Regions from separate parts of the Homo sapiens genome. Here region 2 is linked to region 1. A link means that fine-mapping ties the variant in region 1 to the expression of a gene that starts in the linked region. Tissue or cell type: whole blood. Region 1 holds a variant in brackets; the other region holds the start of a gene. All regions are shown on one strand. Distances are between the middles of the regions.

What was found. PIP is the estimated chance that this variant, and not a neighbour inherited with it, causes the effect.
Region 2: DRC12 starts here. The variant in region 1 is fine-mapped to the expression of DRC12 in whole blood (TOPMed, PIP 0.97).

The regions. Positions count from the first base shown.
Region 1 is chr11:119,159,886-119,167,984 of GRCh38, forward strand. ABCG4 (ATP binding cassette subfamily G member 4) reads left to right here. Exons shown (of 15, transcript NM_022169.5): 13 at 342-500; 14 at 653-771; 15 at 996-2,768. The coding sequence ends at 1,221. Among named protein-coding and RNA genes, the nearest start is that of NLRX1, 4.8 kb to the right of the region's middle. The variant A/G (reference allele first, on the strand shown) is at 3,046.
Region 2 is chr11:119,191,572-119,199,670 of GRCh38, forward strand. DRC12 (dynein regulatory complex subunit 12 homolog) reads right to left here and starts at 4,270. Exons shown (of 7, transcript NM_001145018.3): 1 at 4,228-4,270; 2 at 3,853-3,928; 3 at 3,352-3,423; 4 at 2,195-2,314; 5 at 1,580-1,672. The coding sequence starts at 3,916. RefSeq lists an enhancer at 1-23.

The DNA of each region.
Region 1 (8,099 bases):
ACAAAATGGCTCTCCTATGGAGAGTTAATTACTTAACAATATAACGAATAAGCTGGTCCAGGTGGGAAGGACTTTAGGCGCTCAGGGAAGGGAAGAGTCACCGTGCCTGAAGCAGTCAGGGTGGACCAAACGGAAGACGTGAGACGAGATAAGTGATGGTCATATGGCCAGGGAGGAAGGGGACGTGTGTCAATCTGGGGGACAGCTTGAACAAGAATGTGGAGGCAGGATGGACACCCTGGGAATAGGTATTCTAGAGGCCCAGCCTTGGGTGGAGTGGAGGTCTTGGCTGCTGTGCCCCTGGCTTGAAGTCCACTGTCCAGCCCGTGCCCACTCCCCAGGTGGTGTGTCCGGTGGTCTACTGCAGCATTGTGTACTGGATGACGGGCCAGCCCGCTGAGACCAGCCGCTTCCTGCTCTTCTCAGCCCTGGCCACCGCCACCGCCTTGGTGGCCCAATCTTTGGGGCTGCTGATCGGAGCTGCTTCCAACTCCCTACAGGTGGGAGGGCTGGCAGTTGGGAATTCCCAAGGCGGGATGAGGTCTTGTGGGAGGAAGCAGGGCCTGGTGCAAGGGTTAGGGTGGAGCTCTAGGAAACCTGGGTTTGTCCTGGTCACCCCTATGATGGCCTGGCCCCCTCCCTTCCCCTCTAGGTGGCCACTTTTGTGGGCCCAGTTACCGCCATCCCTGTCCTCTTGTTCTCCGGCTTCTTTGTCAGCTTCAAGACCATCCCCACTTACCTGCAATGGAGCTCCTATCTCTCCTATGTCAGGTCAGTACCCCTGCCCTCCTCGTTGGCCTCTGCTCCTCCCTGGAGGAGTCCATACCCAGGGCTTCCTGGGTTGTGCCAAGTCTGCTGCCTGCCCCATTATCCTTTGGGCAGGGGCACCCTGGCTGCACCCCAGGGATGACAGCATTGCAGCTGGGCTCTGGCAGTTTTCTCAGAGAGCAGGGACCCTGTGTGCTGTATCCCATCTGATATCCCTGCCTGCCTAGGTATGGCTTTGAGGGTGTGATCCTGACGATCTATGGCATGGAGCGAGGAGACCTGACATGTTTAGAGGAACGCTGCCCGTTCCGGGAGCCACAGAGCATCCTCCGAGCGCTGGATGTGGAGGATGCCAAGCTCTACATGGACTTCCTGGTCTTGGGCATCTTCTTCCTAGCCCTGCGGCTGCTGGCCTACCTTGTGCTGCGTTACCGGGTCAAGTCAGAGAGATAGAGGCTTGCCCCAGCCTGTACCCCAGCCCCTGCAGCAGGAAGCCCCCAGTCCCAGCCCTTTGGGACTGTTTTAACCTTATAGACTTGGGCACTGGTTCCTGGCGGGGCTATCCTCTCCTCCCTTGGCTCCTCCACAGGCTGGCTGTCGGACTGCGCTCCCAGCCTGGGCTCTGGGAGTGGGGGCTCCAGCCCTCCCCACTATGCCCAGGAGTCTTCCCAAGTTGATGCGGTTTGTAGCTTCCTCCCTACTCTCTCCAACACCTGCATGCAAAGACTACTGGGAGGCTGCTGCCTCCTTCCTGCCCATGGCACCCTCCTCTGCTGTCTGCCTGGGAGCCCTAGGCTCTCTAGGGCCCCACTTACAACTGACCAAAGTGGCCCCCTCTGGGGGTCCCCACCACACAAGTGTTTGTAAACTGGGCTGCTATAAGGTTGGAGTTCCAGGGCTGGGCCCTGGTGGAGTCCACTGGAAGTCCCATTATGGATGTTGAAATGGACAGGGAAGGACTCTGGAAGTCTCTTCCTCCTCCTCCTCTTCTCTCCACCCCTAGACCCTGGCTGACTTGGACAATCTGCCAGGACAGAAGCTGGGTTTTCTGTCTAGGTCACCACTCCCAATCCTGGGGATTGGAGAGGCCTGGGGCTGTGGGATGCCCCATCCCCCTCCCCATCACCTTTGGTGGGGGCAGGGCCTGGTGGCACCTGTGCAATAATGTCTGTGTTTCTCTCCCACCTGCCACTGGAACTGGAGAATGCACTTTATTCTGGGCGGGGGGTGAGTGGGGGAAGACCCAACCCTCCTTTCTCGCTGCCCCTAACGCATGCACGGTCTCGTGATGCTCCCTCCCTCTCCGGAGTGACAGGCACATACATGAGAACAGGCCATCTCAGCCCTACACACTTGCCATCCCCTACAGCACAGAGGAAGAGTGATGGTGGCATGCTGGTGGTGGCGGGTGCTGGTGGGAGGACAGTGCCAACCTCCTCCTGGGGATCCCATGTTGGAGACTCTAAGGATAAGGCTGGTGCTGCCCAGGGTGTCTACAGGAACTGCAGGTGTCTACCCCCAAGTCTTCCCTCCTCCCAAGCCAGGGGTGGCACAGGGCACTAGATCCCTGGAGTTCAGGAACCAACACAAGCACAACCACGGGCATAAGTTGGCCTTGGCCACTGCCACCCACGGCCCTCCTTTTGTGCTCCATGCTGGCATCTTCACTCCCCTACCCCTTCCCCAGCCACTGCTGCTCATTCAAACTTCTGTCCATGTCCCTCCACTGTTCCTATCAGCAGGTGGCCCCTGGGCATCAGAACAGCCTGCCCTGGGCACCAGGTGGCAGACACACTCAGAGCATGTCTGGCTTTCCTGGTGGGTCCAGGCTCATTCTGCTTCTGATTTCCCCTCCCCCAGGGCTCATTTTCCCCCTTTTTCCTGTACACATCCCTGTCTACCTCCTCTCACCCTGCCACAGATTCTTCCTATCACACAGGGATGCCAGTTGTATTTGTGGGATTTCACCCATTATTAATAAAACCTATATTTATACAGTATGCAATGTGTAAATGTGTGTGGATCTGCCACCTGGTACTGTGCCCTGCAAGGGGGCCTTCAAAGCATTTGGCATGAGGCCTGTCAGCTGTAGGGAGTCTGTGGCAGGGGATGGTAGGTCCCAGGTACATGTCAAGCTAGTGAACATGTAGCTTAAGAAATATTTGTGTCACCGGGCATGGTGGCTCACGCCTGTAATCCCAGCACTTCGGGAGGCCGAGGCGGGCGAATCACGAGGTCAGGAGATCGAGACAATCTTGGCTAACACGATGAAACCCC[A/G]TCTCTACTAAAAATACAAAAAATTAGCCGGGCGTGGTGGCGGGTGCCTGTAGTCCCAGCTACTCGGGAGGCTGAGGCAGGAAAATGGCATGAACCCGGGAGGCGGAGGTTGCAGTGAGCCGAGATCGTGCCACTGCACTCCAGCCTGGGCGACAGAGCGAGACTCCGTCTCAAAAAAAAAAAAAAAAAAAAAAGAAATATTTGCATCATGCTGTCCATCTCACAGAGGCTTCACATTCATTATCTCAAGGGAGTCTCATGCTGACCCTGCACCATCCTTCATGACAACCCGTTTTGTAGATGAGAGAACTGAGACTTGGGTTAAGTAACCTACCCAAGGGCCCTCAACGAATGGAGGAGGAGCCAGGCCTGGAGACCAGGTCTTCTGCCTCCAAAGTCCTCTTTCTTGGCATCGGTCAATGGCACTTGTTCATGGTGGACCCACATGCTGTGTGGGGGAGCTGCGTGTCTGTTGTATGAGTGAGTTCTTGCCCAAATGATGCCTGCCTCTGTCTTCAGGACTCACTGAGCCCTGGGTGTGCCTGCAGGGGTGGGGTGTGTTAATGGTTATGGAGGGCAGTGAGAAGCAGGAAAGACCCTGGAGCCCCATCCCTAGGATGGGAGTGGCGGGGGCCTCGCTGGGCTTACTCGCCTTTCCCCTTGGCTTCTCCTCTCTTCCCACCCAGCCACCCTTACTGGGGCTGAACTGTCAGCCACCAGGAATACAAATGGGTCTGGTGGCTGGGGGTTTGGAGCAGGCAAGTGTCCAGAAGTTCTTGAGGACTGGGGGCAGGACAACCCAAGAAGCAGCGCACTGCCTCACCCTCTTCTCTCCTGGGCCTGAGGCTTGGGGACTGAAGGAAATGACTGGCATCAACCTGCCAGCTGCCTGGAACACCCTAGTTGTGCCACATGTAGACTTAAGTGACCCAAACTAAACTAGGGTCCAAGTTATGAGTGGTTGGGTGCTCACCTGGAGGTGAATGACTTTTTTTTTTTTTCTTATGGAGGTTTGTGATGGGAGTGGAAAGCATGAAGAAGTCTGAGTTCAAGCTCCTGGAATTCTAGTTAGATTTAGAGGGCATTCTGGGTGCCTCCTTCTCCCTGGAGTGATGCCAACAGATGGCTTTTGACGTATCAAAGGGCATGAAATCCCACCATTAAAGCATCTGTCTTAAGATTCTTATTTTACTCTCTCTCTCTTTTTTATTTAAAGACAGGGTCTCACTCTGTCACCTGGGCTGTAGTGCAGTGGTACAAACATAGCTCATTGCAGCTTGAACTCCTGGGCTCAAGGGATCCTCCTCCCTCAGCCTCCTGAGTAGCTGGGATGATAGGTGTATGTCACTATGCCCAGATAATTTTTAATTTTTTTTTTTTTTTGAGACAGAGTTTCACTTTTGTTGCCAGGGCTTGAGTGCAATGGCGCGATCTCGGCTCACTGCAACCTCCGCCTCCCAGGTTCAAGCGACTGTCCTCCCTCAGCCTCCGGAGTAGCTGGGATTACAGGCATGCACTACCACGCCCAGCTAATTTTGTATTTTTAGTAGAGACGGGGTTTCTCCATGTTGGTCAGGCTGCTCTTGAACTCCTAACCTCAGGCCTAATTTTTAAATTTTTTAAAATGTAGAGATGGGGTCTCATCACGTTGCCCAGGCTGGTCTCCAACTCCTGGGCTGAAACGTTCCTCTCAGCTCAGCTTCCGAAAGTGTTAGTATTACAGGCATGAGCCACCATGCCCGGCCCTCTTTCTCTTTTTAAAACGTAAATACTAGGGCATGGCATGGTAGCTCACATCTGTAATTCCAGGACTTTGGGAGGCCAGCCTGGGCAACACAGTGAGGCCCCATCACTACAGCTCTCTATAAAAACAAACAAACAAACAAACAAACAAACAATTAGCTGGGCATGGTGGCAATGCTTGTAGTCCTAGTTACTTGGGAGGCTGAGGTGAGAGGATCACTTGAGCCCAGGAGTTTGAGATTACAGTGAGCTATGATTGTGCCACTGCACCCCAGCCTGGGTGATAGAGTGACACCCTGTTAAAAAAAAAATCCAGTAAATACTTTTTTTTTTTTTTTGAGATGGAGTCTCTCTCTGTCGCCCAGGCTGGAGTGCAGTGGTACCATCTCGGCTCGCTGCAAGCAAGCTCTGCCTCCTGGGTTCACGACATTCTCCTGCCTCAGCCTCCCAAGTAGCTGGGACTAGAGGTGCCTGCCACTACGCCTGGCTAATTTTTTTGTATTTTTAGTAGAGACGGGGTTTCACCGTGTTAGCCAGGATGGTCTCAATCTCCGGACCTCGTGATCCACCCGTCTCGGCCTCCCAAAGTGCTGGGATTACAGACATGAGCCACCACTCCCGGCGAGATACTGTACTCTTGCCACTGTGCCCTACCCCATGTTCCTCCCACCAGTCCCAGTAACCTGCTGAGTTGGAGCATAAATGCTCCCTGCCCATCTAAGTATGTTTTGAAGTGGGCCCTCTCTCCCTAAGTGCCAAAGTACCTAAGTACCTGGGCTTACAGATCATCTTTTTTTTTTTCTTTTTTGAGACGGAGTCTCACTCTGTAGCCCAAGCTGGAGTGCAGTGGCGTGATCTCGGCTCACTGCAACCTTCGCCTCTGGGGCTCAAGCAATTCTCCTGCCTCAGCCTCCCAAGTAGCTGGGACTAGAGGCGTGCGCCACCACACCTGGTTAATTTTTTTTGTATTTTTAGTAGAGGCGGGGTTTCACCATGTAGCCCTGATGATCTCGAACTCCTGAGCTCAGGCAATCCACCCACACTGGCCTCCCAAAGTGCTGGGATTACAGGCGTGAGCCACCACGCCCATCTGATATCATCTTCTTTAACACAGTCACCTTCTCTGTGTCCAGACCTATGCAAAGTGCTGAAGACCAGAGTTGACTAAGACAGTTGTCCATGCAATAATTCTTTTTTTTTGAGACAGGGTCTCGCTCTGTCACCCATGCTAGAGTACAGGGTGCAACCATGGCTTACTGCAGCCTCAACTTCCTGGGCTCAAGCGATCCTCCCATCTCAGACTCTAGAGTAGCTGGGACCGCAGGTGCGTGCCACCATGCCTAGCTAATTTTTTAAAAATTATTTTTGTGGAGTCAGGGTTCTATTATGTTGCCCAAGCTGGTCTCAAACTCCTGGGCTCGAGTGATCCTTCTGCCTTAGCCTCCCAAAGTGCTGGGATTACAGGTGTGAGCAACCACACCCCGGCCTCATGCTATAACTTTTTTTTTTTTTTTTAGACAGAGTCTCACTCTGTAGCCAAGGCTGGAGTGTGTAGTGGCATGATCGCGGCTCACTGCAACCTCTGCCTCCTGGGTTCAAGCGATTCTCCTGCCTCAGCCTCCTGAGTAGCTGGGACTACAGGTGCCTGCCACCAAGCCTGGCTAATTTTTTTGTATTTCTAGTAGAGACGGGGTTTCACCACGTTGGTCAGGCTGGTCTCGAACTACTGACCTCAGGTGATCCACCCACCTCGGCCTCCCAAAGTGCTGGGATTATAGGGTGAGCCACTGCACCGCATCCTAGGTCAGACAACAGAGGACATGCCCACGGCATGACTCACAGTACTTCTGTCTGCAAGAGGCCAGTCAAAGTATATGTTATTAATAAAACCTACATGGTTGTCGTACCCATGGGGAAGGTGACAGGGGAGGAAAACAGATTGCTCTGAGCTGTGTCCAGGAACTGCTGCCAGGTGACTGTCTTGCATGGCTAGGTAAGTGGAATGAAGCTAGAGGAGATTACCAGGCCCAAACTGTCACCCATGAGACTACATTCATGGGGTTCCTATACTTCCCCTCCCACATCCTATTCTACTCCCCTTGAAGAACCTCTTTTAAAATGCAAATGTGTTGTTCACCCTGCTGCTGGGATGCCCTGCCTTTCCTTTCTCTGATTTATTTATTTATTGAGACAGGGTCTCTCTCTGTTGCCCAGGTTGGAGTGCAGTGGTGCAATCTTGGCTCACTGCAACCTCCGCCTCCCAGGTTCAAGCAATTCTCCTGCTTCAGTCTCCTGAGTAGCTGTGATTATGGGCATGTGCCACCATGCCCAGCTAATTTTTTGTGCTTTTGTTTTTATTTTTGAGACACGGTTTTGCTTTATCTCCCAGGCTAGAGTGCAGTGGCATGATCTCGGCTCACTGCAACCTCTACCTCCCAAGTTCAAGCAATTCTTGTGCCTCAGCCTTCTGAGTAGCTGGTACTACAGGCCCATGCCACCACGTCTGGTTGATTTTTTTTTTTTTTTTGATACAGAGTCTTGCTCTGTCTCCCAGGCTGGAATGCAGTGGCGTGATCTTGGCTCACGGCAACCTCCGCCTCCTGGATTCAAGCGATTCTCCTGCCTAAGCCTCCTGTGTAGCTGGGACTGCAGGCATGCACCACCCAGCCCGGCTAATTTTTGTATTTTTAGTAGAGATGAGGTTTCACCACGTTGCCTAGGTTGGTCGTGAACTTCTGAGCTCAGGCAATCCGCCTGCCTTGGCCTCCCAAAGTGCTAGGATTACAGGCATGAGCCACCATGCCTGGCCAATTTTTGTTATTTTTAGTAGAGACGGGGGTTTCACCATGTTGGCCATGGTGACGAGTTTGAGCTGGTCCCAAACTCCTGGCCTCAGGAGATCTGCCCTCACCCCCAGCCTTCCAAAGTGCTGAGATTACAGGTGTGAGCCACCGCGGCTGGTCCTCTGATTTATTTTTTCAGATCCAGTACAAATGTTACCTCCTCTGCACTCCCTTTTCCAGACTCTCCTAATGCCTTGCCTCTGCCACTGAAGTACATCATTTGTTTGTCTGTTTTTTATATTTTTATTTTCTATTTTCATTTTAAATAGAGACAGGGTCTCACTATGTCACCCAGGCTGGTCTCAAACTCCTGGTCTCAAGTGATCCTCCTGCCTCGGCCTTGAAGTACATCATTTGTAAATGTGGTAGTTGATTCCATTAAAGTGAGGTGCCTGCCTTGCTGTGGTTGGCAGCCCAGGGCCTAGTGCTGGACCTGGCTTGTGGGGGTGAGGTGCTCAGTGCTACCCA
Region 2 (8,099 bases), 32 kb after region 1:
CGAGGAGGGCGGATTACCTGAGGTCAGGAGTCCGAAACGAGCCCGGCCAACATAGGTGAATCTCCATCTCTACTAAAAATACAAAAATTAGCCAGGCATGGTGGCGCACACCTGTAATCCCAGCTACTCGGGAGACTGAGGCAGGAGAATTGCTTGAACGTAGGAGGTGGAGGTTGCAGTGAGCCGAGATTTGCCATTGCACTCCAGAATGAGCGACCAGAGTGAAACTCCGTCTCAAAACAAAAAACAAAAAACAAAAAAATCCCCAAAACAACAACAGCAAAAACAAAAACAATTGAGTCATTGATTGACTTGGAATTTGAGGTAAAGCAAAGATTAGGAAAGGAACCCAGAGTCTGAATGGCAGATAAGCAGCTCCTGGCCATCTATAGCTAAACCGAAGGCCTTTTTTTTTTTTTTTTTAGTTGGAATCTTACTCTGTTGCCGAGGCTGGAGTGCAGTGGTGCGATCTCGGCTCACTGCAGCCTCCGCCTCCTGGGTTCAAGTGATTCTCCTGACTCAGCCTCCCAAGTAGCTGAGATTACAGGCACACGCCACCATGCTCAGCTAATTTTTGTAATTTTAGTAGAGATGGCATTTCACCATACTGGCCAGGCTGGTCTCAAACTCCTGGCCTCAAGCAATTCTCTTGCCTTGGCCTCCCAAAGTGCTGGGATTACAGGGGTGAGCCACCGCACCCGGTTGAAGGCATTTTTAAGGTATGAAAACTTTGAGACCAAAATTGTGAAAGAGCTCATGTGTCATGCTGAGATATTTCAACATTATTTTGTAAGCAAGAGACAAGAGAAGCAAAGGCTTCCTGGTTTTTAAAAATATTTTTGCTTATTAGGAGTGTTTATTCATTTATTTGGTGAACAGTTATTTAGGATCTACCAGATGCTAGGTCTTGAAGATACAGAAGTAAATAAGTCAAACATTTCCCCTTAGTTTCATTGTAGAAATCAGCTAAACTAAAAGGGAATATGTTTTGCTCACAAGAGACATGGCAGTGGTGGGGAGTTAGGGCTGGACTTGAGAGGAGGAAATGGGGTGTGAGGCCTACATCTTCTTTTTTATTTTTATTTATTTTTTTGAGACAGAGTCTTGCTCTGTTGCCCAGGCTGGAGTGCAATGGCGTGATCTCGGCTCACTGCAACCTCTGCCTCCTGGGTTCAAGCGATTCTCCTGCTTCAGCCTCCCGAGTAGCTGGGATTACAGGTGTGCGCCACCACATCCGGCTAATTTTTATATTTTTAGTAGAGACGGGGTTTTGCCATTTGGCCAGGCTGTTCCTGGACTCCTGACCTCAGGTGATCCGCCCGCCTTGGCCTCCCAAAGTGCTGGGATTACAGGCCTGAGCCACCGCGCCTGGAGCCTCTTCTTTACTTACAGCAGAGATTTTTGGTATCCCGAACCCTCTGCTGCAGTCCTCAGTGGTGGAGGGTCAGCGAAAGTGGGGAAAGTGATCCAAGAGCCCAGACGGCAGCTTTCTGGAGCAGAGACTTTGAAGTCTACCCCTTCATGCTGGCCCTTGCTGCAACTCTTGGAGAGAAGGGGCTTGGAGGGTGGGGAAACCTACCTAGCTGCCCCCGAAGGCCTTTGACTTCTTCCTCCAGCTGCTTGCTGCGGGTTTGCATATCCTCCTGCAGGGCATGGCACTGGCGACTCATCTCTGGGGTGGGGGCAGTGGGCCACCAGGGACCCAGGTTGGAGATGGAGGGATGGAGAAAGGAAATGAAGTTGTGGGTGGGGAAGACTCTACTTGGTCTAGTGGAACAGGAGCACAAAGGCCTTCTTGGTTCTTTTTGTGATTCTGAGAAGCTGCAGACCATGAAAACCTGAGGAAGGGACAGGAAGCCCGACCTACCTCCCCCAGTCCAGCTTTGGATGGGGATGCTAGCCCTTCTCCCCGCCCATGGGCTGATTGAGATGATGGCTATGACTGCATGTGTATCCTACACAGCATCAAGCACATGGCACCAGGCATCCTGGAAGGCCCCTGCCTGGGATCCCAGGAACCTACCTGCCTTTGGTTCCTGCAGGATCCTTCCTGATTTGTACTGTTTGGGAAAGACCAAGACCAGGCCTGGCAGTCGGAAGCCCTCCTTGTTTCCCTTCCTTGCATCAACTGACCCTGTTGGTTGTCCTCCTCCAAGCCCCTGTCTCCTGCCCACCTGCTTAACCGACCACACACCTGCATATATGGCCTTCCCTTCACTTCGGGCCCCTTCCAGCTCAGCCTCCACCCCTTGCAGCCTCTGCCTCAGCTGGTCTTCGGAAGCCTTGGCTCGACGGGCTTCATCCCTCCGTAGAGCTGTGAGCAGTCCCAGAGCCGCCGTCAGGACTGGCTGGGTCCCACTAAATCAGCCCCCATGAACGTGATGGACTTTGCCCACCTCTAGAAATCTGGTGGTGGGGTGTCCAGCCTCTTACTCTCTCTCTGGGTTTTGTTGTTTTTGTTTTTTATCCCTAGAGTCTCACAGGCTCCTCATTATTAAGAAGTAAAAACTCCCTCTATGTTCTTTTCGGATAGCCTGGCATGGTGGCTCATGCCTGTAATCCCAATATTTTGGGAGGCTTAGGTGGGAGAATTGCTTGAGGCCAGGAGTTTGAGACCTGCCTGGGCAACAGAGTGAGACCTTGTCTCTATAAAATAAATAGGGCCAGGCGCGGTGGCTCACGCCTGTAATCCCAGCACTTCGGGAGGCCAAGGCTGGTGGGACACAAGGTCAAGAGTTCGAGACCAGCCTGGCCAACATGGTGAAAACCCGTCTCTACTAAGAATACAAAAATTAGCCAGGTGTGGTGGCCACGTGCCTGTAATCCCAGCTACTCGGGAGGCTGAGGCAGGAGAATCGCTTGAACCTGGGAGGCAGAGGTTGCAGTGAGCCGAGATCACACCACTGCACTCCAGCCTGGGCGACAGAGCACAAGACTCTGTCTCAAAAAAAAAAAAAAAAAAAAAAAAAAAAAATAAATAAATAAAGTAGCCAGGCATGGTGGTGTGCACCTGTAATACCAGCTACTCGGGAGGCTGAGGCGGGAAGATTGTTGCGGCCCAGGAGTTAGAGATTACAGTGGACTATGACCATACCACTGCACTCCAGCCCGGGCAATAGAGCAAAATTCTGTCAAAAAAACCAAAAAAAACAAAAAACAAACAAACAAAAAAAACACCTTCCTTTATCAACTCTCACTGCCCACCCTCTCTCATCATCTTTTTCCACTAGGGGATGGTTAGGGTCAACTTAACCCCCCACCATACCTCCAACTCTCCAATCCCCCAGGATACAGAAATGCCCCATTTCACTTCCCCTGTTGCCCACCCATGCCAGCTTCTACCCTCCTTACCCAAGTGGTCTCGGAGCAGCTCCTTCTCCAGCACCACCAGCCTGTGCCTGGACTCGGCCACCACATCTGCACCTGCGGTGGCAAGTGGCAGAGCCTCAGCTCTTCATGATCTCAGCATTCCTCACTCTGCTCACATCCTCACCCCACACCCTGCACTTTTGCCACAGCAGACCTGAGGACCACTAAATGAGGTATCCACAGTGGCAGAGTCTACTGAAGTCAGCACCGTGTCCTCACCGACCAGCACATAACAGATATGCAAAATACACATGACAAATATATTAGGAAGGCACAGAGCTAGATGGGGCTTAAAGGAGAGCGTGGGTGACCATTTCCCCACTTCCTCAGCTCCCTGGATCTGGCTGTGAGGACATGAAAGAGGTAGGTCAAGAGAGCTCCATCCTGTCCTGCAGAAGGCTGAATTCTCTCTGGAGGAGCTCTGCGTGGTCTTCATGGCAGAACATGGAGAAGCAGGGGGCACCTCCACCCACCATGACTCACCCCAGTTCTTTTTCTTCTTCTGTGCCCCAGATTTCTTCCCTTTTTCTTTGTTTTTAGGTGGCATCTCCTTGCTGTCCTGGGAGAAGGAGGGGACCTTATGTTTAGGTCTGGACACAGGGATGCTTTCCTGAGCTTTAGACTGAACCAGGAGACTCTCCTGAGTCCAAATTTGTCTCTCATATCCTTCAGAAAAGTCAGTTCACAGTCTCTTTGGAACCTCAGACAGGGTTGGGGTCAGTGGGGAGGATGGAGTTTTTTCTCTCAACCAGGCTGACTCTGTACAGAAGTCATTCCTTGCAACTCTCTTTTAGAGAAACGAAATCCCTGTACCTGCTCCCCTCCCTCTTCCCATCATCCTCAACCCTCACTTCCTACCTGTAGGATCCTCTCCTGCCAGCGTTGGGGCTCCCCGTGGAGTGACCCACTCGTGGGGAGTGGCAGAGAGAAGGCCCAACTAGCGAGGAGCCTGAGGCGGGGCCTGGGTCCTGGGAGCCAATCCTTGGTGGCAAATTTCTCTTGAGGGCAGGACTGAGGGCTGGAAGGTTGGGTTTCCAGAGGCTGTATGTTGTCCAGGCAACTGGGAAACATGGAGTTCACAGGAAGGTGGAATGGGCTAAATCAGCTCACAAAGTTTAAAATATCAAGGTCTCAAAGGGTCAGTTCTTTCCTTATCCCAAAATCCTAAGTATAGTTTGAAAAGAAAGGGCTTTGGAGGTCGATTAGTTATGATTCATTGCCATGTAGACATGGCCTGCAATTTGGAGACTTCCAAATTCAGATGTACACATCTGAGATAATATGTGGTGCTGATACAGAGGAAAAGGACTGACAGTAGCCATGTTGGACAACTGACATCCCGAGGTCCCACCAGCAAAATGACATTAGTAGGCTTAAAACTGAAGATCTAAGCTGGGGCGGTGGCTCGTGCCTATAATCCCAGCATTTTGAGAAGCTGAGGCAGGAGGATTACTTGAGGCCAGGAGTTCGAGACCAGCCTGGACAACACAGTGAGACCTCATTTCTACAAAAAAATTAAAAAATTAGCCTGGTGTGGTGGTGCACACCTGTAGTCTCAGCTACTTGGGAGGCTGAAGCAGGAGAATCACTTGAGCCTGGGAGGTTGAGGCAGCAGTGAGCTATGATTGCACCACTGCACTCCAGCCTGGATGACAGAGGGAGACCCTGTCTCAAACAAACAAAACTCCCAGACCACCGAAGATCCTCTTCAGTACACTGTAGAATGAGGGTAATAAGTGCAGGAATAGGTAGTCCAGGGAGTTTCCCACTTCAGAGAAATGAGACGCAGAGGAATAGTGGACCCATGGACTCTAGGGTACTGACCTAGAGGGATGCAAGTGTGGAGGAAAGAGCTCAGGTTAGAGACAAGACATGTGAGTTTGAGTCCCAACTGTGGATATGTAAACTGAGGCGAGCCATTTGACTTTGCTCAGCATCAGTTTCCTGATCTTTAATTGTTTGATTTTGCAGCTCTTGAAAAGCCTGTGTTTTAGCTGCGTGTTTACATGGCTATCTTCTCTCCTAGTGACTTAATCTATTGCTACATTTCCCCATTCCCTTGTGTGGTTGATTTTCAGACAGGTGTTGAGACATTGCTTTGTGAGGCTCCCTGTAGCATAGAGTTGGTTGGGGCTCCCTCTAGTGGACTTGTTTGACCTTCTCCTGAGTTTCCTACATTTTTGCTTTTAAATTATTTACTGGGCAACAGTGGGGGTGACTCCCTTTGGGGATACTTCTTAGCGTCCTGTTTGAGCCAGGAGTGGCTGGAAGAATTAACATTGGGGAGAGAGTATGATGGGTGGCCCTCCCTTGTCAGGCAGCCCTCACTTTCCCTCCAGCTCTGTGCTATCCTGGAGGCTTGCCATTTATCTGCCACTTGGATCTCTGGGCACCATACTGGTTAGAGTGAAAATAGCAAAAACTTCAGGACTTTTCTCCTTTTGGATTAGGGGACCTGCAGACCCTTTCTTTTCTTTAGGTTTCTTTTTTTTTTTCCCGTGTCTCTCTCTGTCACCTAGGCTGGAGTGCGGTGGCATGATCACGGCTCACTACAGCCTCAGTCTCCCTGGGCTCTGGTGATCTTCCCACCTCAACTTCCTGAGTAGCTGGGACTACAGGCGCATGCCACCACACCTGGCCAATTTTTGTATTTTTTGTAGAGATGGGGTTTTACCATGTTGTCCAGCATGGTCTCAAACTCCTGGCCTCAAGCGATCCACCTGCCTTGGCCTCCCAAGGTTCTTGGATTACAGGCGTGAGCCACTGCACCAGCCTATCTTTTTTTTTTTTTTTCTTCAGACAGAGTCTCGCTCTTGTTGCCCAGGCTGGAGTACAGTGACGTGATCTCGGCTCACTGCAACCTCCACCTCCCAGGTTCAAGCAATTCTCTGCCTCAGCCTCCCAAGTAGCTGGGAATACAGGTGCCCACCACCACGCCTGGCTAATTTTTGTATTTTTAGTAGAGATGGGGGTTCACCATCTTGGCCAGGCTGGTCTTGAACTCCTGACCTCGTGATCCACCCGCCTTAGCCTCCCAAAGTGCTGGGATTACAGGCGCGAGCCACTGTGCCCGGCCTTCTTTAGGTACTTCTCTTCATCTCTGTCACCCTCAATATTTTTGGTCCATTGCCTATTGTCAGGAGCAGATCTGTAGAAATAGCCACAAGAGGCTGGGCGCGGTGACTCACGTCTGTAATCCCAGCACTTTGGGAGGCTGAGGCAGGCAGATCATGAGGTCAGGAGTTCGAGACCAGCCTGGCCAACATTATTAAACCCTGTCTCTACTAAAAAATACAAAAATTAGCTGGGCATGGTGGCACGTGCCTATAATCCCAGCTACTGGGGAGGCTGAGGCAGCAGAATCGCTTGAACCCAGGAGGAGGAGGTTGCAGTAAACAGAGATTGCGCCACTGCACTTCAGCCTGGGCAGCAGAGCAAGACTCCATCTCAAAAAAAAAAAAAAAAGCCACAAGATCTGGAATTGAAAAGTCCTTCTTCTGGGTAGTGGGTAACTTTAGGCAGAGGCTGGTTCATGCTTGTCACCTTGGTGGCTGCACGGCACTTACATGAACTTCCGGGCATTTTACAGAGCAAAGAGAAGAGCCAGTCTTGACTTCCCAAGTGCTTCCAGCTCCTGTAACTCAGAGTCAACTAATCTTGTGGACATCTCCCAAATCTGGAGGATATTTTTCTTCTAATCTTTTATTTATTTATTTTTGAAGCCAGTGGAATTTAGTAGTGGGCGCCTGTATACCAACTTTAGTGACTATAAACCAAAAATAAAATTCTAAGCCTGCCAGCCATCTGAGTGGACCCCTCCTCTAGGCCAAGGGCTTTCCAAAGTGAACCTGAAGAACTAGTTCAGGCCGTGATGGGAAGGGGGAGCCGGACATGCCTCAACATACCCTCCTCCCTTTTAGAATTACTGATAGAACACACTCTTTAAATCTGATAAGAAACATTTACAGGCCTGGTGGCTCATGCCTGTAATTTCAGCACTTTGGGAGGCTGAGGCGGGCAGATCATTTGAGGCCAGAAGGTTGAGACCAGCCTGGGCAATGTGGTGAAACCCCATCTACACAAAAAATACAAAAGTTAGCCCAGTTTGGTGGTGTGCATATGTAGTCCCAGCTACTTGGGAGGCGGAGGTGGGAGGATCACCTGAGCCTGGGAAGGTTGAGGTTGCAGTGAGCCATGATCACGTGACTGCACTCCAGTCTGGGAAATGCAGTGGCACCCTGTCTCAAAAAATAAAAAGAGAAAAGATAAGAAGAAAAAACATTTACAATCAATTCTCTCTGAGGCCTGCTACCTGGACGCTTCATCTACATGATAAAACCTTGGTCTCTTGCCGGGCACGGTGGCTCACTCCTGTAATCCCAACACTTTGGGAGGCCAAGGCAGGTGGATTCACCTGAGGTCAGGAGTTTGAGACCAGCCTGCCCAACGTGGCGAAACCCTGTCTCTACTAAAAATACAAAAAATTAGCCGGGTGTGGAGGCGGGTGCCTGTAATCCCAGCTACTTTGGAGGCTGAGGCAGGAGAATCGCTTGAACCCGGGAGGTGGAGGTTGTGGTGAGCCGAGATTGCGCCACTGCACTCCAGCCTGGGCAACAAGAGCAAAACTCTGTCAAAAAAACAAAAACAAAAACAAAAAACCCTTGGTCTCTGCAACCCCTTATTGTAACCCAGACATTCCTTTCTATTGATTCCAGGTCTTTAGATAATAA